Linked DNA regions of Homo sapiens: regions 1 and 2 are each linked to region 3. Evidence: fine-mapped QTL for protein levels in blood plasma. A gene starts in region 3. Each other region holds a variant in brackets. All regions are shown on one strand. Distances are between the middles of the regions.

Region 1 (8,183 bases), 38 kb before region 3:
GCTGGAAATCTACGTTTTAATAAGCTCTCCAGGTGATTCCCAGTCACCTGAAAGCTTAAGAACCACTGTAACAAAGGACAAGACTGGGTAGTCTATCCGTGGAGTCCCTGCTCTGTTCTTAACCACTATGCTGTACTGCTAATCACCTCAGAGATGGAAAATGGAAAACATCAAAGAAAAAACATCAAAGAAAAACAAAAGAAACGTGAACGTGTGAAGCAAGCTTGCTGTGTACTGGCTTCTGTTGTTGAGGTTATTGTCTGTCTCCCCTCTGGGGAGAACTGGAAATGGAAGGAGGGAGTCGAGGGGCACAATGAGGATGGTTTGAGAAGTGATGGCTATTGTTTGCTGCCTTGGTTTTATTTGATTAGCTGGTACATCCCAAATTGCTCTCCATTTAAGGACTACAGGTGAGCCTTAGTCACTCTGCCCCAGAGCTGTGGAATGTGGAGTAGCTGCACTTCTGGGATCAGGCTGCTAGGTGTTCTCCCTGCACTCAGTTTGAATGCTAGTCAGCAAATAGGCTAAGAAAGTAGGGTAGGTAGGCCGGGCGTGGTGGCTCACACCTGTAATCCCAGCACTTTGGGAGGCCAAGGCAGGCGGATCACCTGAGGTTGGGAGTTTGAGACCAGCCTGCCTAACATCGCGAAACCCTGTCTCTACTAAAAATACAAAATTAGCTGGGCGTGGTGGTACATGCCTGTAATCCCAGCTATTCGGGAGGCTGAGGCTGAAGAATCCCTTGAACCCAGGAGGCGGAGGTTGCACCATTGCACTTCAGCCTGGGCAACAAAAGCAAAACTCGTCTCAAAACAAACAAAAAAACAAACCGAAAAGAAAGTAGGGTAAGCACGTTCTCACTCATAAGTGGGAGTTCAACAATGAGAACACATGGACACAGGGAGGGGAACATCACACACCTGGGCCTGTTGGAGGGTTGGGGGCAAGGGGAGGGAGAGCATTAGGACAAATACCTAATGCATGCAGGGCTTAAAACCTAGATGACAGGTTGATAAGGTGCAGCAAACCACCATGGCACATGTATACCTATGTAACGAACCTGCATGCTCTGCACACGTATCCCAGAACTTAAATTAAAAAAAAACAAAAACTGACAAAAAAAAAAAAAGACAGTAGGGTGGCTGGACTGGCAAGGGAAGGAAAGACGTGGACAAAATCCATTTGTACCATACACACCCTGTCTCTGGGACACACACCTTTTTTCATGGCAAACCACCTGGCATGCACTGCGATTTCTGTAGAGTTTCAGGTTTGGGCCAGTCCACATGAACACCCAGTCTGTTTCTGAACTCGCAAAGCTGAGAGCCTGTACAGATGTGATGCCCTCTAGCCTGCCCCAGGTCAGCCACAGGATCCCAATGAAGCTTAACTGTCATATTCTGTGTAGTGGGCTGGGAATTCCTGACTTTGTTTATGGACAGGGGAACCTGTCAAGGAAGGGTCTCAGGGAGTCAGGTGTCCCAGGGGTCTTGTGCTGCTGTGATAAGAGTAAGTGCTCTATTCTGCTCTGAAGTAATGAAGGGGCTGGGCTATTTCTTCTGCCTAGGTCAATTCTAAAGTCTACTTAGAGCCATGAGTTTTGCAGTTCAGTTTAATATGGGAATGAGAGGAACACAGAAGGCTTCCCTGTTTAGGCTTCCCAAAATGGAATGAGAAATAGGCAGGCATTTGACTCCAACTTCTGCTGCACTGGAATTTCCCGTTGCACAGATTCTGGTGTGGGGTCTAAAATGAGGCCACCTGCTGTGTTAGTATAACCCTGGGCCTTGTTGAGGTTGTGGAACTCAGTGGTCCCCAGGGGTTCTGCGTGGATCTGGGAACCATGTCCCCTGCACTTTTCTCTCTGGCCAACCTCTTTGGGCCCAGCATTCCTGGCTCTTCTAACTGATTGCCTGGACAAGGAAGCTTTACTCAGTGGAGTATGCTAACCCTGCAATGGCACTCTGAGGGTAGGGTGTGGAGCGCTGGTTGTTACCAGGGACTACCTCATGCTCACCAGTCTTCACAGCTGTCTTGTCCTCCACCCCACCCCTTGGCTGCACCACCACCACCACTGCCACCATATACACCCTAGTCACTCTCTAATCCTGTGTCATCTTTCTTCACAACTTTTTCACTCTTTGAGATTGTATATTTGTTTATCTATATACTATCTGTCTCACCAAAATGTAACCCACAAGGGCACTGCCTGGTGTGTTCACCATTTTGTTTAGGTTGCTGGTTTTGTTCACTGCTAACCTAACGGTGCCTGGCGCACTGTAGGTTTCAATTAGTATCTACTGTAACATTTCAAAAATTATTGGTGTATCTCCAGGACTGCGTTTTCTTGATAAATATTGGCACATAACATCCAGAGTCTTCCCTCGGTGTTCAGGGTCCTCCATCACCTGCCCTCCACCCGAATTTCCCACTACCTGCTAACACAAATGCGCCCACAGGAGGCAGGTTCCTTTCTGCACCCTAGTACCCTAGGCACAGCCCCACCTTATTTACATTGTTTTAGCTTAAAATGGCTTCATTGGATTTTCTGCCTTTTAAAATCCTCTGAATTCCACAAAATCCTGGTTCTAAGAAGTTTCCCCAGGCTGCTCTGACTCACCTGGGTTTTTCTCTCTTCAGAATATTTCTATAAAGTGGCATCCTAAGATTTGTCACTGTGAAGCATTCTGCCTTGAAGTTAGTTTTCTAAGGGTGTCACGGCCAGGTGTGGTGGCTCATGCCTGTAATCCCAGCACTTTGGAAGACTGAGGAGGGCAGATCACTTGTGGTCAGGAGTTTGAGACCAGCCTGGCTAACACAGTGAAACTGTCACCACTAAAAATACAAAAATTAGCTGGGCATGGTGGTGCGTGTAATCCCAGCTACTTGGGAGGCTGAGGCATGAGAATCACTTGAACCTGGGAAGTGGAGGTTGCAGTAAGCCGAGATCGCACCGCTGCACTCCAGCCTGGGTGACAGAGCGAGACTCAGTCTCAAAAAAAAAAAAAAAAAAAAAAGTTTCATGTGGCCAAGTCTTGATTTCATAAAAATATTGTCATATTTTCCTTTTGCTCCCCTGCTGTGTCTACCAGGTAAATCATGGCCATTCCCTAAGGCCCAGGTCATCTTCTTAGTAAAGACCTCAGTGGTGGGTTGTATTATTGGTTGCCCAACATCTGGTGCCCTAATGAACTCAGGCATATCATGTGACCTGCTCTGGCCAGTGAAATGTGGGCAGAAATGGTAATGTACCACTTCTGGGCAGAGCTTTAAGGGCTGATGCATGATTTGCCATCTCCTTTCCCTCTGACATAAGACAGGCAATGATTGGATAGAGGGTGCTCTGTCAGCTTCGGTCCTGGAGGGAAGGTGACAGGGAGCAGAGTCACAACTGTTCAATAATGGACATATGAGTGACATCTAAATCTTTATTTTTCTGTTATAAGCCATAGCAATTTGTGGGTCTTCTATTTCTGCAGTACAGTCCAGCCCTTTTCATATGACACTGCTTCCATAACCAACCCAAACCAAAATGACTTTCCCTCTAGTGAGTGTTCATTATACTTATTGCTGATACCTGTGCTTTTTCAGATAGGGGTTCCCAGAACCATAAAATTTTGTGGAGGTGGCCCAGAAGTAAAGAAATCTTAGAAAATGTGTTTTAGGCCAGACACAGTGGCTCACGCCTGTAATCCCAGCACTTTGGGAGGCCGAGGCAGGTGGATCATTTGAGGTCAGGAGTTCTCTGCAAAAAGTACAAAAATTAGCTGGGTGTGGTGGTGTGCCATGAATACACTCATTTCTATTTCTGACATCACTTTCATGCTTTGACAAAATGAAGTCCAAATGAAAACATGTTGTTGAGTAAACTTTCCTTTGTTTGGGTGATTGATCATATGTGAACTGGATCCCATGGCTCTAACTGCTTTTCCTTCAATGACTCCCCATGGCATTGAGATGGCACCTGATCCCCTCAGCATGCACACCAGACCTCTTGGGATCTGTCTTCTTCCTGCCTTGGGTTTCCCACCCCAATCCCATACACCAGGCCCTAGCCATTCTTCTTTATGTGTAGTTCCCAAAGGAGGTAACTCCCTGCCTTGACACCTTTAATACCTGCTCTTTCTTCTGCATGGATAGTCCTTAGCCCACCCCATCAAAGCGGCCAACCTCCCCTTGCCTTTTCAAGGCTCAGCTAAAAGCCTCCTGCCATCCAACACCTTCCTGATCCTTCTGCTCAGCCCCATCCCCTACCACCCTAAGTTAGATGCTTCCTTTGAACTTTCATAGATAGTACCCCTGCAACCCCTCTCCTATCATTTATTGAAACCAAAGGTTTTCCTGCAAGCAAGGGATTTT[G/GT]TATCTCTGTGCTTGCAAAATCTGGTGTAGTGTCTGGCATATACATAGCAAATGATTGATAAATGTTTGCTGAGTGAATGGATGATTGGATAAATTAACAAACAAACCTGAGGAAGCTCACTTGGAGTCCGAGTCACCTTTGGTCCGGGGATTAGATGAAACTGTTTTCCAGTATTGATGGAAAAGTCCATAGTTAGTCTATGAGGTGCCATCCTGGGTGGGCTCTGGAAAGAACCCAGTTTTCTAGATCAAATCAAGAGTCAATGCACCTTCTTGGAATATTTCCATGCAAGAAAGTGCCAAGATCCAAACCAAATGTCTGGTTTCAAGTTAGATTCTTCCAACATTATGGGGAGATAGAGTTGCATTTGCTTACATGTTCATCCCCATAGTATTAAAGTTTTGATATTATACCCAAGAAATGTAGATGTTAGGTTCCATTTCATTTCTTCCTGAATAGGTGAATGGGGAGGTTTGGGAATTTCAGTTCCTAAATTAGGGACAGTTACGTTTTTAATTGAAAAAAAAAAATAGAGGAAAAATCTGAAGCTGCATTGGGTTGCAATAAATTTTCTTTTTTTTCTTCAAGACAGTCAAGACTCCCAGAGAAACAGAACAGCTTGTCTCATTAATCACTAACCATCAACAAAAAACAGGAAGACGGTAGGAAATTCCTCTGCCTTTCTCCTCTTGCAACCCCACCTTCTCTATTCCTCCCACTCCATTCCCAGGTCAGAGACTCATAAACCTGTCCTGCTTCCTCTAAACATTTAAATTTTTAACCTATAAATTATAAGACATTTTTAAGAATGGAGTTTTAAAAACTGGACATAATTATCATGCCCCAATCATTATAATTCTTCCATGTTCCCCTTTAGGTTTTTTTTTTTTTTTCCTCCATATAGCTACAGGAAACTTGTTTTTAAATCCCCAAAGTGAAAACCTCTAGGGACCTCATACTATAAAAAGCTGAGAACTTCCCTTTTTGGTCCCTTGAGGAAGAGGTCAAACATAACCAGATCATCTTTTTGAAGGACAATTCAGCTGTACTAAGAGCGAGATCGAGCATTACCTTAAAGTACAAATGAATACTTAAAGAGATTTCTTGGCCAAGGTGGGCAGATCACAAGGTCAGGAGTTCCAGAGCAGCCTGGCCAATATGGGGAAACCTCGTCTCTACTAAAGTTACAAAAAATTAGCCGGGCGTGGTGGTGTGTGCCTGTAATCCCAGCTACTCAGGAGGCTTGGGCAGGAGAATCGCTTGAACCCGGGAAGCAGAGGTTGCAGTGAGTGGAGATCGTGCCATTGCACTCCAGTCTGGGTGACAGAGCGAGACTCCGTTTCAAAAAAAAAAAAAAAAAAAGGCACAATCATTACAACTAGCACTATACAGTTATTGTCCATTTGAGGTTTCTTTTTTTACAGTATGTCATGGACATTCCGGTTCAGTGTTGAGGTTTTGTTTCTTGCTGCCCTATTGGTCTCACTCCGTCAGCCAGGCAGGAATGCAGTGGTGCAATCATGGCTCACTATAGCCTTGACCTCCCAGGGCTCAAGTCAGCCACCTCAGCCTCCTGAGTATCTGGGACTACAAGCATGGACCACTACGCCTGGCTAATTTGTGTATTTTTTTTTTTTTTTTGTAGAGATGGGGTTTTGCCATGCTGTCTAGGCTGGTCTTGAAATCCTGAGCTCAAGCAATCCACCCACCTCAGCCTCCCAAGATGTTAGGATTACGGGCATGAGCCACTGTGCCTGGCCTGGTGTTCTTATTTGTTATGAGTGCCTGCAGGTGTCACAGAGCTGTAATTTAAGAAGAGGTTAATTCAGACCCCTTTTGACCCCAGAAAAGACAGTTTGTTGGAGGTCTGCACAGCCCTATTGTCTATTTATTGCTACCATAAGAACTCATCCTTTAGTGGCAAGGAATAATGGCAATTAATTTACTAGTTTCCCCATAAGCTACTGTGGAGAAGAAAGGCTTTTCTTTCAGTCATCCTACTTCCTGAGTTTTACCCTAAAAAGCTCTCATTCTAAAGTGAAGCAAGTGAGAGTCCAGAGTGAAGGATGCTTAGCTCCCAATAGCAGGAGAGGCCTTGAAGTTACCAAAATTAGGTTCCCTAACCGGAACATTTGGTGGATTAACAAAGGTGGACTACTTCTCACTAGTATCACTGTTTTGAGATTTAAATCTCAAAAATAGATCAGTAGTTTAGTAAAGACATCAAAACCAGCATTGAGCAGCACGTCACCTGCCTGAACACAGCATGTGAGATGAGATGATATACAGTATCCTCTTCAGGGCATCTGACATAATGATGAAATGTGCAGGTTCCAGAATCAAAGTGTCAGAGCTAAAACCCAGCTCTGTCACTTACTAGCCATGTGGTATTGGGCAAATTGCTTAATCCCTCTAAATGAATCAGTTTCCTCATCCATATTATGGGATTAACGGTACTTACCCTCATGGGGTTGTTGTGCTATCTCATTTAATTCTTACAAGCTTTAAAAATAGTGCCAGAAACATTGTAAGCACGTGTTTGTTTGAGGGCCTCAGGTGTACAAATTGGCTGATGACAAACTACTGGCCCTAGCAGATGATGTAGTATCAGACCAATTAAAGACAAATTTTCAATATAAACAGTGTACATAACATAGGGATAGACTGCCAATTTGTTATGCCAAGAGACAGCAGAAATGTATGTGCCAGAAGATCTGCACATCAGGTCAAATAGACTACCACTCACTGAAGTTAAAAAGAAAACTGGAGTGTGGATTCAGAAAGTGGAAGGGGCTATTTTGAGAGAACATGTCCTTCAAAATGTATTAGCACAAAAACTGTCACAAACATTCACACCACCAAGCATCAGGTAAATTACTTTTTCAACTCCAAGGACTGAATCTCATTCAGAATTCCCAGGCCCTAACAGCAGAGGACAGTGCTGAACTGGGAAGCCGCATGTTGCCATGAGGGCAGGGCAGAAAGCCAAGTCACCTCTGTTAACTGTGTTGAATCATTAACCATAAACACATTTTTCACAACATTTTCTTTCATGGCCTGTTCTCAAAATTATTGAGGACATCGTGTAGATTTTGACTATCTCAATGTTAATGAGCCTGGAAAGCATGTTAAGAATTTCCAGTCTGGTGCTGTCATGGAGAGACTCCAACTCATCACTGTAAGAGGGCAAGCCAAGAGCTTGTAGACAAGGAAATGGTTCATTAGGAATCAACCAATGACATAAAATTGGTTCAATATGAATCGGTCAATGCCAAAAAAAGGCAGGGGAACTGTCCTAGATTGTGAGACTGTAGACGATGGGTGAGCCTTGCTTGATTTGATTCTGGGAACTACTGGAGAACTTTAAAAATGCAGTATGTTGTTGGATATTACTGAGTTATTATTTTTAGTTTAATAATGATGTGTCATGATTAGGCAGTAAGAAGTCATGCTTAGGAGATGCATATTGGTGTTTTTTGGGATGATGTGACATGCCATTTATCACTTCTAATGGTTCAGTAAAATCAACAGATGGAGCTCATGAGAGAGATAAAGCAAATGTGGCAAAATATTAACAACTGGTGGATGTATATGAATAATGTGTGAGTGCTTATTTTACTATTTTTGTATTTTTTTCTATAGGACTGAAAATTTTCTAAATAAAAAGCTGGAGGGATCAAGAGAATGAAAAGGTAAGCCACAGACTTGGAGAAAATGTTTGCAAAAGACATGTCTGATGAAAGAGTTATCCAAAATACAGAAAGAATTCTGAAAACCCAACAATAAGAAAATAAACAACTCAATTAAAAAATGGACAAAAGAT
Region 2 (8,183 bases), 63 kb before region 3:
GGAGTGGAGCCAAGTATCACGTGCCTCGGGGACAAATGAATCAGACAGCTACATGTAAACAGGAAAAAATGAATTTGACATATTAGCTTGTAAAATCAGGGCTTGACATTCTATTACCCAGGCGTGACTAGACAATCCTAAATATTCCCATATGGGTAACTGGATCAGAGCTGACTGAAGTTCAACTGTGCATCAAAATTAAGTGACGGGTGAAGGAAGGGTCCTTTTTTGTTTTTATTTTTTGAAATCCTACATTACAAAAATGATTCTTTGAATTTCATTTCTTTCTTAAATTACATTTTACATGGATATAAGCTAGAATAAGATTCCTTTAAAATATTTCTACAAATCATTTATAAATACACTTACTAAGCAAAGCTAAGCATGCTAATTTGGGGGAATCATGGGCCAACATTCACTATTGCCAGGTACCATATGAAGTGCTTTGTATCAGCTCATTTAATCCTCACAGCAATTGCCCCTACTTTACAGATGAGGAAACATGATCACAGATGTTAAAGAAAAGTGCTCAGGGGTTTTGGCCAGTAAATGACAGACACTGGAGTGCAGGCCACCTTCCGCCAGCACCTGTGGGCTTCCCCAATATGCCAGAGTGCTCCTGGGGATCAAAGAAAGAGTGCTGCACTGCCTCTCAGAGGTGAACGGCCCGGCCCCCTGTGGAGCCCAGGCTGCCACTGCTCATGCTGACTTTCCAGTTCTCTCCTCTGGTCCCTTACTTTCAAAGGGTTTGTTTTAAATAGCAAAACAGGCAGGCATTATGGATCCCTAGCAGATAGCCAGAACTGAGAATGCCAAGCGTGGAGGGGGCAGTTCTGGATAAGGCGGGTCAGGCCTGGCCAACAAAACATCCAGGCCAGGCCAGGCACATTCTTCTGGGCTCCTCAAGGCAGCTGGCTTCACCTGTTTTTTGTCTGAGAAGGATACACAGCTCACACACAGGCACACTGGGGAACAATTCCCAGCAGCAACCGTTTCTAGCTAATTTCCTACACATCTGGATTTGCCTTCGAAAGTTAGACAGTGAACATGAAGGACAGCTCTGCCACTGGACAGGATGGGCCCTTTCTTAGCTACAAATTGTGGAGAGCAGGGACGATGCAGAAGCCCTAAGGTAGGAGAGGGGGCTGTATCTTGGACACCAGAGAGAGGTTTGGAATGCTGCCTGGACCTGTTGCCTATCAGTTGTGGTCTATGCTTATTTATATTACCAGGAAAACTGACAGAGAGCCACCCAGGCATAAAAATACCAGCTTGTGAAAGATTACCTGAAAGCCTGTGCATCCAAAGTGACAATTAGGGAAGGCACCTTTGGAAGTGGCCTGCACGCAGAAATGCATGCCGCAACTTGCTGTTGGTGGGGTCAGGCTAACGAGTCTAAAAGGGAATGTTTTCCCCTGAGGCATGGAAATCCAGTTCCAGTCCGTCTCTCCTCCTGTCCTTCCACCCTAGGTCCCTCCTACCCCGGGTTTCTGTTTATATTATTCCCTCTAATAAGAATATCTCTCCTTCCATGTTGCCTACATGACAATCTCATCCTGTCCCTTACCCGGCTGTCTTATTCCAAGATTGGAGAACTGGGGGCCCTCCTCCCACTGTATCCTGTCTGAAGAGCTCTTTTGTTGAGCCCGCAAAATGGCTTTAAAATCATGATACTTCATGTACAAATTCAGCTTCTCTTTACAAACTGCAAGATCTGGCAGTATTGGCTCCCCAAGGCTGCATGACAATAATTAGCTAGATCTAGTAGCAGCTGTCCCTGTTAGATGGGATGTAAGCATCACATTTCTCCAAGCTCTTCACTACTCCCTATTGTATTTTGGCTCTGTGCACCCTTGGGGTACACTGCACCTTCTCTAAATCTGTTTTTATTCTAATTGCACTGCTATCACAATTACTTATCTGCGTGTCTGTCTCCCCTATTCAACTCCAGGGTGAGGTGTGTGTCTTGTTCATCTTTCAGTTCCTGGCTCACAGTAGGCAGACACAGAATAAGTACCTGAATGAATGAAGAAGGCCCTTGGTAATGAGGAACATGTCTGAGCATCTCTCAAACAATCAGTCATCTCCACTGCTCTTATGATATTAGCTGATAAGGACAGAGTGAAGGGCCTATTGTGCCTAAAGTTCTTTTAACAACTGCTGGATCAAAATAAACCAGCTGGCACTTCTGGGTGAAGGCAATAAGGAGAATGGAAGAAATGAAGAGAAACTCACCTTGGAGTGGATACCAAGAGTATCCATTTGTAACACCATTAGGAAAGTTCATTTTGTTTTTACACTCGTCTCCTTTCTTCATGTTGGGATTTCTTGAAGCATAGGTATGTGCAAGATATTGAAAAACATCATCATCAGGCGTTAAGCTTCGGGAGTATAATGCCCCAGTTGCTGCATTTAAAAGATGAACCAAGACCTTTAAACTGACTTGAGAGTAAGAGGAAACACAAACACCATATTAGCAAAGACATAATCGCATCACACACACATGCTCTAATTTCCCTAGAGAGAAATCCTTCATCCACCTCCTCTATTCTTCTTTCTACTTTATAATAAACATATGCAAGGTGATAGCCCCCAAATAAGTCAGATACAAATCCAAACTCCTAAATCAGCTTAAAAATTAAGTGTCCTCTCAGTCACTCTTGCTAATTTCTGGAGGTAAGGACAATTTCTTTAGGTATTATAGGGGTGAATAAAGCTACTGTAATATTTTGGGTCCTCATCCCACAGAGTTTTAAGAAGAGTCAACAATTATTGTTCATATATGATTAGCAAAAAAAAAAGTGAGTTGTTCCAGTTTTATGTTATTTTAGCCATGTTGTCTCTTGTCAGAGAATCAAAATCTGACTATTTAGATTGTATTTTCTAGAATCTAAATTTCACTAATTCACTGATGCATGTCCAGCTGTGGGTTGTCAGTTCAGCCACACTGCCCATCTGCTGTTGAAGAATCACAGGAAGGATGGCTAGAGTTGGGAACATGAAGCTCTTTTCACCCTGCCAGAGAAGTTAAGAGGGGAAGGGAGAGCTGATCCCCATCCAGAGGCAGAGAGTTTTCAGCCCCACTCTGGACTTAAGAAGCCAGAACTGGACCCGCACCTGCTTACCTTGAACACCATTATCAAATGGGTAACTGGCCACGAGGGCACCACCATGGAGGTTTGCAGAGAGGACAAACGTCTCTGTTTTCAGCCACTTCATGACTGCCACAGTTTCAGGCTGCCTTGAGACATTATTATATTCAAAAGCATCGGGGAAATTTCGATTCAAGTCATACTGGTTA[T/C]AATTTTCCCTTTAAAAGAAAGAATATTTTAGGGCTTATTGATAGGGCATGAGGGAGTGGATTCTTACAGTGTCTTGCCCTTTGGTTTAGGCTCCAGGTGTCTTTCCAAACGTGAGTATGGGTGTGGTGGATGGCTGCCCTTGTGGCCTGCCATGACCCACACCTGGCACTTACATCCCATGGCATCCCCTGCCTCGTGATCTGCTCTCACCAATGAGATACTAGCTATTGTGATGCAGGCAGAGGTTTGATAAGTGTTTGTATTTGGGACTTCTGCTCTTAGATGCTCCCTTTTGGGACCTTGAGATCCCAATGGTCGCCACGTGGAGAGTCCACGGAGAGTCCATGGCTCCAGGTAAATTGTCTCAGAAAGACCAGAGCTGAGCCCCAGACCTGTGGCACGGACAGTAGCCATCCCTGCTCTGCCCTGCCCAAATTCCTGACCTATGGAATCAACAGTAAATAAAAAGGCTGTTGCTTTAAGTCGCTAATTTTGGGGTGGTTCGTTAAGTAGCAACTGATAACAGAAACAACACTAAACACATTACACAGAAGTACTTGTGAAACGTGGAACAGCCATGTTTAAATATATTTGAAAAACTTAAAATTGGAGGGAATCAAGTGGTGAGATTTTGTTCAGCTTTGGTAAAGCAAACACATATATGTAAATTGCATACATATGAATGTATATTAGACATCTGAGAAATTCCAAACCTCCCAAGGCAGCTTGAAACAAAATAAACTGTTTAAATCAGAGCTCCTTCAAGACCCGTTCTTGCTTATGGTTAGTTCTTGGACTACTGGCCTAATAAATCAACCGGTCATTACCAAGGGCCTGGGTGCTCTGCCAGGCACTGCGGATCTAACAACGACAAACACAATGGACAGGATTCCTGCCTGCAGGTAGCTTGCAGTGTAGTGGGGGGAGAGACATGAAGCAAGAAATTAGATATTAAAAGTTGTGCTCTGACAGTAAAGTGCCAGGTGATGTGAGAGTTTATCAGGGGATCTAGTGTATGACAGGTCGAGAGAAAGAGTCTTGGAGGAAATGCTATTTAGGCAGGGAAACGGTGTGTGTAAAATGCTGAGGTAAGAAAGCACCTGGTACTTCCAGGAAGGAGGCCTAGAGGGGAGGAGGCAGGGGAGAGAGAAGGAGTGGCAAATGAAGATGGAGAGGCTAGGTGGGCACCGGGGCAAAGTAGCCTTATTTGCATTTCTTCCTGCAAGCCGGAGGCAGCCCTGATGTGCCTTGAGCTTTGGCACATCAGCGACATGACACCGGCTCTGAGGGCTCTCACCATGACACATCTCCTCTTGCCAAGGCCAACAGGTGCCTGTCGGGAGCCTTTGTGTTGTGTTGTTTTCAAGTAAAGATAGACCAGCCCCTCTTTACCTTCCGATGCTGTAATAACAGTCAGGCTTTTTGACGGCTTCAAATCCATCTGGGTTCATGGAAGGCATGATGTGTATCCGGGTACTATTGATCAGATTTGTGATTTCAGGGTCTTTGCCATCACTGGTTACGAGATAGTCAATCAGATGGAGCAGCAGCTCCCGCCCAACAGTCTATATGTGTTAAAGAGAAAAGAGGACATTATTAGGTCAGAGGCAATAAGGAAAGCACTCCCTACGGTACAAATTCCCCAATAGGGGTCTCTACACATGATATCTCAGACCCAAACTAGTTTGTAAGATCACTCTTTCTCAAGCATGCTTATGCTCTGCCAAGTGGCCATCAGGTGGCGATCAGTCCTGAGGTATGCTGAAAAATGCTAGTAAGAGTGAAAGTACCTATTTGTAAATAGTTTACATATTGCAAAAATGAATTAGAGTGGAATAATGCTGCTGCTGCTGCTGCTTCCTTTTTTTTTTTTTTTTTTTGAGACAGTCTCAACTCCGTCACCCAGGCTGGAGTGCATTGGCGCGATCTTGGCTCATTGCAACCTCCGCCTCCTGGGTTCAAGCGATTCTCTTGCCTCAGCTTCCTGAGTAGCTGGGATTACAGGCGTGTGCCACCACGCCCAGCTAATTCTTGTATTTTTAGTAGAGATGGGGTTTCACTATGTTGGCCAGGCTGGTCTTGAACTCCTAACCTCAAGTGATCCACCTGCCTCAGACACCCAAAGTGCTGGGATTACAGGCATGAGACACTGCGCCCGGCCGCAATAATGATTCTTACAACATTTTTCATTTGGTTGCCTTCCAAAGTATCTTCTGGAGTGGGAGAGCAAGAGGTTGAGTTACAGAGAAGCACAGGAATCACGTATTTCCATGAGAATGCATGGTGCATATGAAGCTTATCATGTATGTATTGGTGGATAACAGACTTAAAATCATCACATTGTAGATTTTTTTTTTTTTAAGACAGGGTCTTGCTATGTTGCTAAGGCTGGCTTCCAACTCCTGAGAAACTTCATATCATTATCACTTTTCTAGATATATATTTCTAATATATATTAAGTAAAAGCATGACTATTAAAATGTTAAAAGCTGTCATATCCACCTAAATTAGCTTGCAGTATCAATAAGGCTTGGGAAACTGAAGGCCTGTGAGAGAACTTGCTTTATAATCCCTCCCCAGGAGAGAGAGTCATTATTTTTCTTATTTAAAAAAAGTAATTTAAATGTCAGCCTTATCATAGGAAGATCTGCTTAGACTACATCAAATTCTCCCTATCATTTTAGGTTCAAGGAATCTGCTTCAGAAGAACAGATGTTGTTGAGGGGTTAGTAAATGAGAACTCAGGGGCAGCAGGTGAGAAAATCAGGAGAGTGCTGCAGGCACATTCATGTAGACACTGTGCAAGAAAAGATTTCATGGAGCCTCAGAAGAATTTCCAGTCATGATTTCACTGTAGGACTTCAACATTGTGACAAAGGATAAGCGGTCCTTGGATGACCACTTCTCACTTGATTCCCTCACTGGCACATAAAGAGACCACATTTTAAACATTTGTTATCCTAATGAACACAGAATAATTGAAATTGGGACTAAGAAAATTTGGGGCTGGTGGCAGTGGCTCATGCCTGTAATCTCAGCACTTTGGGAGGCTAAGGCGGAGCCCAGGAGTTTGAGACCAGCCTGGGCAATATAGCGAGATCCCATCACTACATAAAATAAGAAATTAGCCAGGCATGGTGACACAGACCTATGGCCCCAACTACTCAGGAGGCTGAGGTAGGAGGATCGCTTGTGCTGCCCAGGAGGTTGAGGCAGCAGTGAGAAGAGATCGCACCACTGCATTCCAGCATGGGTGACAGAGTGAGACCCTGTCTCAAAAAAAAAAAAAAAAAAGAAAGAAAGAAAATTTGGGATATATGAATTATAGATTCATAGGCAACCATAAAATTTAGAGTCAGATTATGTCCAATCCTGACTTCAACTTTTTTTCCTACTCATTTTTTATCTTCCTCTTCCACTACCTTTTTTTTTGAGACAGAGTCTCACTCTGTCACCCAGGCTAGAGTGCAGTGGCACCATGTTGGCTCACTACAACCTCCGTCTCCTGGATTCAAGCAATTCTCCTGCCTCACCCTCCCAAGTAGCTGAGATTACAGGTGCCCACCAGCATGTCTGGCTAATTTTGATATTTTTAGTAGAGACAGGGTTTCACCATGTTGGCCAGGCTGGTCTCGAACTCCTGACCTCAGGTGATCTGCCTGCCTCAGCCTCCCAAAGTGCCGGGATTACTGTGTGAGCCACCGCGCCCGGCCAGATTTTTGTTTTTATAGTCAAAATTGTCACTGGAAAAAGTCCTTACAAGCTAATAACCAAAAAAGTCACTTGTACACCCCACTGGGTTCCAATTTTAAGATATAATAGGTTTTTGAAGGTCCAGCACCTTTGGAAGTAACCTTGATGAGCTACTTATGACCTCCCCTAAAGCCAGTGGGGAGGAGCTGGTAACATAAAACTGTGACAGTAACTTTAAATGTGAAAAGGGGCTGGGCGTGGAGGCTTAAGCCTGTAATCCCAGCACTTTGGGAGGCCGAGGTGGGTGGATCACCCGAAGTCAGGAGTTTGAGACCAGCCTGGCCAACATGGTGAAACCCCATCTCTACTAAAAATACAAAAATTAGCTGGGCATGGTGGCAGGTGACTGTAATCCCCACTACTCAGGAGGCTCAGGCACAAGAATCGCTTGAACCTAGGAGGCGGAGGTTGCAATGAGCCGAGATCGCGCCACCAGCTTGGGTGACAGAGTGAGACACACCATCTCGAAAAAAAACCAAAAAAATGTGAAAAAGATCGTTGGTTTAAGAAGCTTTCTCAGAAGGGTTTGGGGAGGAATAGGTACAGGAAGGTGAGGAGGAAGTGACCAGGAGTCCCATAGTTCCTTAAATGTCTAAATGCTGGTTAGAGGCCATAGTATGGTTCAATCGGCAAAAATCCCTGGCCTATCTGAGTCCCAAGTCAAGAACAGAGAGGAAGTGATATCAGAATCCCCATGTGACTCTAAATGTGAATTTGTCTCTTAGCTATCTGAATCATACACTCTCCAGCATGCAAACAATCACGACACGAGTTGGCAATGAAATTCACCCAACCGAAAGAAAGTGAAAAGGAAGAGTAAAGAAACCATGATTAGGAGGCTAGGTTGAGTTGGTATTCTGTTAGATACAGAATTAGATTAAGCAGTCTTGGTAGTATGGGTATAGAACAAAATATAAAAGTTGAGGCCGGGCACGGTGGCTCATGCCTGTAATCCAAGCACTTTGGGAGGCTGAGGTGGGCAGATCACCTGAGGTCAGGAGTTGGAGACCAGCCTGGGCAACATGGTAAAACCTCGTCTCTACTAAAAATACAAAAATTAGCCGGGCATGGTGGTGGGCACCTGTAGTCCCAGCTACTCGGGAGGCTGAGGCAGGAGAATCGCTTGAA
Region 3 (8,183 bases):
TCACATCTACCGACTTTGTCAATTCATGGAAATATCTAAGGAAATAACATGAAATGAAAAAACAAGCAGAATATAATCCACAATTACAACAAAGAAAATATGTGATATGCATATATTTACATAGGCATAGCACATATATTTAAGTTTTTACAAAAACTAAACATGTATTTAGTTACTTAGGAATATTACTTTCCCTTCTGGGTAAGACTGCCCACGTTAATACATGTAATATAAATAAATAAATAAATAACACGTGTATAATAAATTCTGTTTATTTTCTTTTATTTTGAGATAGAGTTTCACTCTTGTCACCCAGGCTGGAGTGCAGTGGCATGATCTTGGCCCACTGCAACCTCTGCCTCCTGGGTTCACGCTATTCTCCGGTCTCAGCCTCTCTAGTAGCGGGAACCACAGGTGCACACCACCATGTCTGGTTAATTTTTTGTATTTTTAGTAGAGACAACGTTTCACCATGTTGGCCAGGCTGGTCTCAAATTCCTGACCTCAGGTGATCCTCCCGCCTCGGCCTCCCAAGGTGCTGGGATTACAGGCATGAGTCACTGGGCCTGGTCATAAATTCTGTTTTCTAAGCAAACTTATCTTACATCAGAGGGCAGAATGGTTAGGGAAAATATCTAGTGAAAAAGACCACCAACAAAGGAGCACCATCTCTCAATTGTCACACTAATGTGCAGTGACACTTTGGCAACTGACTCCCAGTTACTGGCATACAGTTTCATCTACCAGTTGGAGCCAAATGGCAGATTTGGGATTTTTCTTAATCCGAGTTATTATTCAGAACAACATATTCAACACAAATATTTAACCACTAGTGTCAGATTTTATTTTTACATGATAACTCCTCAAGCCTTTAACCGCAAGAGTGCATACAAGGTAAAATTAAAAACAAAATTAAGCCTGCTGACTTTCACTGTGATTGTGGTTTGATATCATGCAGGATAGATCACAACTGCTGATTCATATTAGGAAAGAGAGCCCCCAACTGTCACAAGCACATTGTGTTTGAAAATACAAAACCTTACCAAATCACTTAGTACTTAAAATTAACAACATCCTCATCATCTTGTGGTTGAAATGATGACTGAACAATAACTCAAGCTAGTTGTGTTCTATATATTTTTAATTAATATAATTAGTATTCCTAGATCTTTTTAAATTGCTCTACTCTAGCCCTAGGGAAAAATGATTTCAGAAGGCTGAATACGTATGCTGATTCAAGATATGATTTCTCACACACCCAACCTCTATAATTTTGGATTATAGAGCAATATAGAGTAATTCTGGCACCATCTCTTTGGCAATGCTGTTTAAAAACAAAGTTACTATTACACACAGCCCAGGATATTGACTTCGCATTGCACATAAATACATTTATATAATACTTTTTCTTTAATATAGAAGCCATAGCCTTGATTTTTTTGAAAAATGATGAAGAATATGGTAATTATGAGACTCTCAATTGACTCAAAAGTTCAGAGCTAAAATCAAGGTAGAGTTTGAACACACCTTACAAAAAGTTGAGATCCAAATTGCATAAAATTTATGAAACTTTTGATTTAAGGACTAAGTTTTCTGGTAACCTCTTTGGGAACATCAGGATAATAAAAGATGATTAAGTAATAATGGTATCTCGGCCGGGCACGGTGGCTCATACCTGTAATCCTAGCACTTTGGGAGGCCGAAGCAGGAGGATCACAAGGTCAGGAGTTTGAGACCAGCCTGGCCAATATGGTGAAACCCCATCTCTACTAAAAATACAAAAAAATTAGCCAGCTGTGGTGGCGCATTCCTGTAATCCCAGCTACTCGGGAGACTGAGGCAGGAGAATTGCTTGAACTCAGGAAGCCGGAGGTTGCAGTGAGCCGAGATCACGCCACTGCACTCCAGCCTGGGCAACAGAGCGAGACTCTGACCAAAAAAAAAAAAAAAAAAAAAAGAAAGAAAGAAAGAAAGAAAGAAAGATGAAATAACGATATCTGATCAAATTATTTGCCTTGGCCGGATGGGTGCCAGTCCTGGCTATAAAATTCACCATCTGGGAGACCTTGAACAAATTATTTAATTTATCTGATTCAAACTTGCTGTCTATAAAAATGAAAATAACTTTATGTAGTTTCTAACTTAGAACAATAAATTATTAATGATAAATATGAAAATGCTGGGAAGAGTTTCAATCACTACTAATATATATTCATTATCTAGCATTGTCTTCTTCAAATGGATACATTTTAAAAACAGCCTTTAATCATAGAACCACTTTTTTGCATAACTTTAAGCCATAGGGCTAATTATACACGACACAAATCTAACCAACAGAACTGTACTACTTAGATTAAAAGAAACTTGCAGAAATGATAGTTTTGCATAACTTTAAATAAAAGGCTAACTACAGATGACACAGAAATCTTACCAACAAAACTGCATTATTTCAGTTTAAAAGAGACATGAAGAAATGACATTAACAGTCCAAGTCATATATAAAGAAGCCCACACAAAGGGGAACTGAAACGGATAAACGGACTTACTTGGGAGTTTATCTTGAAAAGGAACTAAAACATACATCCCAAATAACCAATGTCTGCAAGATCCAAAAAGACAGAAGAACTCCAATAATGGAAAGGACTCAGTGACACTGAATTACAATGGACAAGTCCAGTAAAATTCAGTTCTTCCTACTATTCCTCCCAACAAAAGCAGAAAACAACCAACACGCACGGTACCGGTTGACTTGTTCTGTGCCACTCAGAGTAGGTGCGTGGAAGAGCAGACAGGAAGCTGGGGCATATTTAATGAATACTGAAAGGGAGGACTGAGGGTTTGGCAAAGTGTTCACGAGACGGACCCTACCTTTCACAGATTTCCCAATACTGTGTAAGTGAGTGACAGAACTGTAGTTTTGGGCAACAGTCTTCAAAAACGCTTCCATCCCTTCCTGGCGGTGGTAGTTGAAATCCAGCGCAGCTACCAAAGGCAGCAACAGCCCTAGCCAGAGGCACGGGAAGTCCATGTTCTAGAGATGAATAAAAATAAGAAGAACCTGAGAACACATGAGGGCAGGCGGGGGCATCACCAGCTACGTCTCGGTACTCCGGTCTCAGGGTCTCCCGACACTGACGCTCCCTGCCTCCTAAGGAGGCAAAAGCTGGAAGCAACACCTTCGGGAGTGAGCCGTGCAACCAGAGACCGGGAGCACGGGCAGCCTCGGTGCCCTCGACCCAGCCGCCCGCGCCTCCCTCTCCTCCTCCTCCTGGCGCCTCCGCCGTCCGGCAGCTGCCACAGCTGCGCCCGGCCCCGCGCACCCCCAGCCTCACCAGGTCCCAGGCGCGCACCTCTACCCACCCGCGGCCGCCCGGCGGGGCCGGGTGTTATAGCCCGGTCAGAGGGCGGGCGCGCCCGGGCCCCGCCCCCGGACGTCCCTCCGGCCCACTCCGGAGCCGCGCGGGTGCCTCCCGGGCGGGGCCTCAGCCGCCTTCGCACCTAGGAGAGACGGCGCCCGCGCGGTGCGCCCTTTCGTGGCGCGGCTGCTGGTGCCCGCGGCCGGGCGGCTGAGCTGGGCGGAGGGCTGCGGGCATGGAGTCGCCGCTCGCGGACAGTCTTTGCTGGAGCCCCAGGTCAGAAGTGTGTCCTCGCCTCGGCCACGGCTGTAGCCTGGGCAGCCACAGGGCGCTCCACCGAGGGACACTCTCTGTCGCAGACTGCAGCCGCTTGGGAGACGTTTAGGGCTCGGCGGGTTTCCTGCGGTTGGCGGTGCCGGGGCCCACCTGGAGCCGGGACGCATGCGGAGTCCTGAGTGCCCTGAGCCCCGCGCGGGCTCCTGCGGGACGGGCGGCGTCGGCCCCGGCAGGGCGAGCCAAGCTCCCAGCAGTGCCAAGCTGCCCAGCGAGGCTAAGCAATCACGGGGCTTCGAGAAAGAACGCGCGCGTGTGTGGAAGTTTTAAATGCCACGAAGTGCAGAGTGCAGGACATTTTCCAACAAGTTTACATAGTGGGTGGGATTTGTGTAAATTAGAATTGAATTTAAAACTGGAAGTCACATCGAAGAAGGCAGGACCACTGTTGTAAATCCGATGCTTCCTCCACCTGCACCTGAGTCTTAGGCCAATTACAGGTCTCTCGTCCTAAAACGTCCTAAAATGCTCCTTTCTGGAAGGATGGCATGGTCTCTGCACGAGAGAGAACGAAGGCTTCACTCAAACCTGAGAGGTGGTTTGTGGCACGGGCCAACCCCCTCTACCTCTCTAAAAGATTCATTCTCATTCATTCTCTCTCTCTCCCCTCCCCCTCTCCCCTTCCCTCTCTCCCCCTTTCTCCCACTCTCTCCCGGATTGTAAGTAACCGTGTCAGGGTATTGGGGGCCCGTGTCAAGGTCCGCAGAATATAAAAAGTTTGAAAACCACTGATTTGAGATAACATTCCACTTTTACAGACTAAAAATACGGATGCAAGCCCACGACTAATTGAATAGAATTTTTCTCGTGGAGGCCCAAGAAAGTGTATTTTTAGAGAGGACCTTGAATGAATCTAATGTGCCTTCAAGAGCTGAGAACCGTTAGATTCCCTGCCCCTTCTTTCTTACAGATATAGATACTTTTCCTAGAATTGCGCACTCAGGACTCCCTGAGACTTCCAGTGATTCTGCCGCAGCATAGAAGAGTGGTTTAAGAACTGAGGCGCTCTGCCCTTGCGATAGTTTGCTGAGAATGATGGTTTCCAGCTTCATCCATGTCCGTACAAAGGACATGAACTCATCCTTTTTTATGGCTGCATAGTATTCCGTGGTGTATATGTGCCACAGTTGTGCACATGTGCCCTAGAACTTAAAGTATATATAAAGAAAAAAAAAGAACTGAGGCGCTCACGGGATGAGTGCCAATTCTTGCTCTGACACTCAGTGGCTGTGTCGACTCTGTGCCTTATTTTCTGGTGTGTAAAGTGGAAGTCTTAATTGTACCTACCTAAATAAGGTTGGCAGGCACATTGTAAGAACTGTGCGAAGCGTTTATTACATAAATAAACCAGCTTAATTCGTAACTCTTTAAAGGGAATTTTCCAAGAGTTGGAATTTTTTTTTTAATTTTTTATTTCTTTCTTTATTTTTTGAGATGGAGTCTCAATTCTGTTGCCCAGTCTGGAGTGCAATGGCATGATCTCGGCTCACTGCAACCTCCTCTCAGGTTCAAGCAATTCTCCTGCCTCAGCCTACCGAGTAGCTCGGATTACAGGCACCTGCCACCAGGCCCGGCTAATTTTTGTATTTTTAGTAGAGACGGGGTTTCACCATGTTGGCCAGGCTGGTCTGGAACTCCCGACCTCGGGCGATCTGCCTGCCTCGGCCTCCCAGATCGCTGGGATTACAGGCGTGAGCCACCGTGCCTGGCCATCTTTTTTTTTTTCTTAAAGAGAAGTTGTTTTATTGTTTGTTTGTTTGTTTGTTTGTTTGTTTGTTTTGAGATACAGTCTCACTCTGTTGCCCAGGCTTGAGTGCAGTGGTGCAATCTCAGCTCACTGCAGCCTCTGCCTTCCAGGTTCAAGCGATTCTTGTGTTTCAGCCTCTAACGTACCTGGGATTACAGGCACGCATCGCCACACCTACGTAACTTTTGTATTTTTACACCACACATGCCTAACTTCTGCATTTTTAATAGAGACCAGGTTTCACCATGTTGGCCAGGCTAGTCTTGAACTCCTGGCCTCAAGTGATCCTTCTGCCTCAGCCTCCCAAAGTGCTGGGATTACATGAGTGAGCCACCTTGCCTGGCCTAAGAGTTGGAAGTCTTAGTATGACATTGTAGAGTCTTTGAGTAGGTTTTTTTTTTTTTAATTGTGCAGTAGTCACTATGCTAAATGTTATTTCCACTGGAAGGGTTGAAGACGTTTCCCTTTCATTGTTGTTCATTGACTAAGAGGTCTGAGGAGGGGGACTGGAGCTTGAGAAGATTAAATTTAGGCAAAGTTACTCTAGGAATGGGAAAGGGAACTGGGTGGGAACAAAGTGAAGGCTTGCTGATGTACCTTAGAAATCCTATCTTTTTAAGAGAAGTACGTGGACACTATCTGATTTCCTGCAGGGTGCTGTGGCTGGAGACTGGAAGAAATGGTGGCTTCATCAATACTGGAATGGAGATTGCCAGGATTGTTGTTCTGGAAAAACAGAGATGAGCTATAGTTGAAATTGCTGCCATTGGGGTTCACACTAGGTAGGAAGGGAGGCAACTTCAGGAAGGAGTCAGAGAATGGAGGTAGGGGGTACAGAGGACTGAGTGCTGAAGGTTTAGGAGCTAGTAACTCAGAGTGCAGGCCAGGGACAGCACTGGCATCACCTGGGAGCTTGTTGGAAATGTAGAATCTGTCACTCCACTCCAAACCTACTGAATCAGAACACACATTTTAATAAGATTTCCAGATGATGTATATGTACATTCAAGTTTAAGGTGCACTGGTCAAGAGAGAAAAAAAAATTTAGTGTTAAGAGTATGAAAGATAACAGCAAAATAAAAGGTTAGCCTAATAGAGTAAAATACTGAAGTTTAGAGATTTTAGAGGTGATCTTCTTTCTTTCTTCTTTTTTTTTGAGATAGAGTCTTGCTCTGTTGCCCAGGCTGGAGTGCAGTGGCACAATTTTAGCTCACTGCAACCTCCACCTCCCGGGTTCAAGCAATTCTCCTTCCTCAGCCTCCTGAGTAGCTGGGATTACAGGTGCCCACCACCACGCCTGGCTAATTTTTGTATTTTTAGTAGAGACGGGGTTTCACCACGTTGGCCAGGATGGTCTCGAACTCCTGGCCTCAAATTATCTGCCTGCCTCAGCCTCCCAGAGTGCTGGGATTACAGGTGTGAGCCACCAGGCCTGGACCTAGAGGTGATCTTTCTAAGTATGGCACCATTAAAGGTAAAACCATAATAAAAAGGCTAATAATTTGAAAACATACAAATGTATGACTTCTGTACAGAAAACCTTATAAAGGTTATAAGAAGAAAGGTTTAAATCAGGTTATGAGAAAAATTACAAGCTGGAAGAAGGAATTAATGCTCTTACAAAATAAAGAATGAGCAAAGGAGATGAATAAGCAGTTCATAAAAGCAGTAACACAAATAGCTAATAAATATAGTAAAGGTTACCAACCTGGTAAGCAATCAAAGAATTACAAGTTAAAAGGGTAAAGTAATACTTTGTTTTGCTTATCACAAAGCAAGATTAAAAAGATTGACAATACCTGGAAGTAGACAGGATCTCAGGAAATGACATTTATGCTGTTTCAATGGTGTTCTAAATTAATACAATCTTTCTGGAGGGAAATCTGGGAATAGACATCAAAATTTTGTATGTGCCATTCCTTGCTAGAAATTTATGCTATAGAAGTAATTTGAAGATGTGTTGAGTTTGTATATGTTAGGAGCTTCATAAGTGCTGCTGCTTTAAATTGTGACAAAGTAGATAAAACCTAAATGTCAAACAACAGCAGATTGGTTAGATCAGTGGTTCTCAACTTGAGGCAGTAGTGCCCACAGCAGACATTTGGCAATATCTTGAGACATTTTTGATTGTCATAACTAGGGATGGGAGCTACTGGCATCTAGTGCTGATACAGAGGGCAGGGAGGCATTAAATATCCTTCAGTGCACAACACAGCCTCCCACAACAAAGAATTATTCAGCCCAAAATGTCAATAGTGCTGAAGTTAAGACACCCTGGGTTAAAGAATATTATAGCTGTACAATTAATTGTTTTTCAGCCATAATAATGTCAATGTAGATCTGCATTTATTCACTTGGAAAGACAAATTGTTCAGGCAAGAAGCAGATAATAAAAGTAAAATAAATAGTAAGATCTCATTTAGATAAAGCAAACAAAAAAAAACTATTCCCAGCAATGTGTTTCTAAGGTTACCAACATGCTGAGTGCAAATCCACGAGTTGCAATGTTTTAATTTTCTTTTTTACATCTTTCTGTATTTTCTGAAAAGTTTTTCCACCAAACATGCATTGCTTTTTTAAATTGGAAAAACAATGAAGGCATTTTAATTTAAAAGCAAAGCAGAGGAAAAAGCACAAAAGTGTTAGAGAGGACCAATGACTAATTCTGAATGAAAACAGGATCAAAATATCTTAGAGTGAATTACAAAAGTGAAGAGGAGGTAAAGATCACTGGAAATGGGAAATTA

Direction of the effects. Alleles are on the strand shown, and positions count from the first base shown. The strength of an association depends on the size of the effect and on how common the allele is.
For the plasma level of the protein whose gene starts at base 3,362 in region 3, allele G in region 1 goes with a lower level than allele GT (moderate association).
For the plasma level of the protein whose gene starts at base 3,362 in region 3, C is the low allele of the variant in region 2 and T is the other (moderate association).

What was found. PIP is the posterior inclusion probability: the model's chance that the variant is causal. The UK Biobank Pharma Proteomics Project read protein levels with antibody pairs (Olink). The fine-mapping took linkage between variants from a reference panel, not from the people measured, so its PIPs are less certain.
Region 1: its variant is fine-mapped to the plasma level of the CPM protein (UK Biobank, PIP above 0.99).
Region 2: its variant is fine-mapped to the plasma level of the CPM protein (UK Biobank, PIP above 0.99). The variant lies in the coding sequence of CPM. If it changes the protein, the assay may bind it differently, which can mimic a change of level.

The regions. Positions count from the first base shown.
Region 1 is chr12:68,892,034-68,900,216 of GRCh38, forward strand. All of the region lies in intron 2 of CPM (carboxypeptidase M), which reads right to left. Among named protein-coding and RNA genes, the nearest start is that of CPM, 37 kb to the right of the region's middle. The variant G/GT (reference allele first, on the strand shown) is at 4,360.
Region 2 is chr12:68,867,090-68,875,272 of GRCh38, forward strand. It overlaps CPM (carboxypeptidase M), which reads right to left. Exons shown (of 9, transcript NM_198320.5): 4 at 4,695-4,867; 5 at 3,126-3,310; 6 at 2,236-2,406. Among named protein-coding and RNA genes, the nearest start is that of CPM, 62 kb to the right of the region's middle. The variant T/C (reference allele first, on the strand shown) is at 3,302.
Region 3 is chr12:68,929,810-68,937,992 of GRCh38, forward strand. It overlaps CPM (carboxypeptidase M), which reads right to left and starts at 3,362. Exons shown (of 9, transcript NM_198320.5): 1 at 3,333-3,362; 2 at 2,869-3,031. The coding sequence starts at 3,028. RefSeq lists silencers at 3,242-3,601, 3,632-3,741.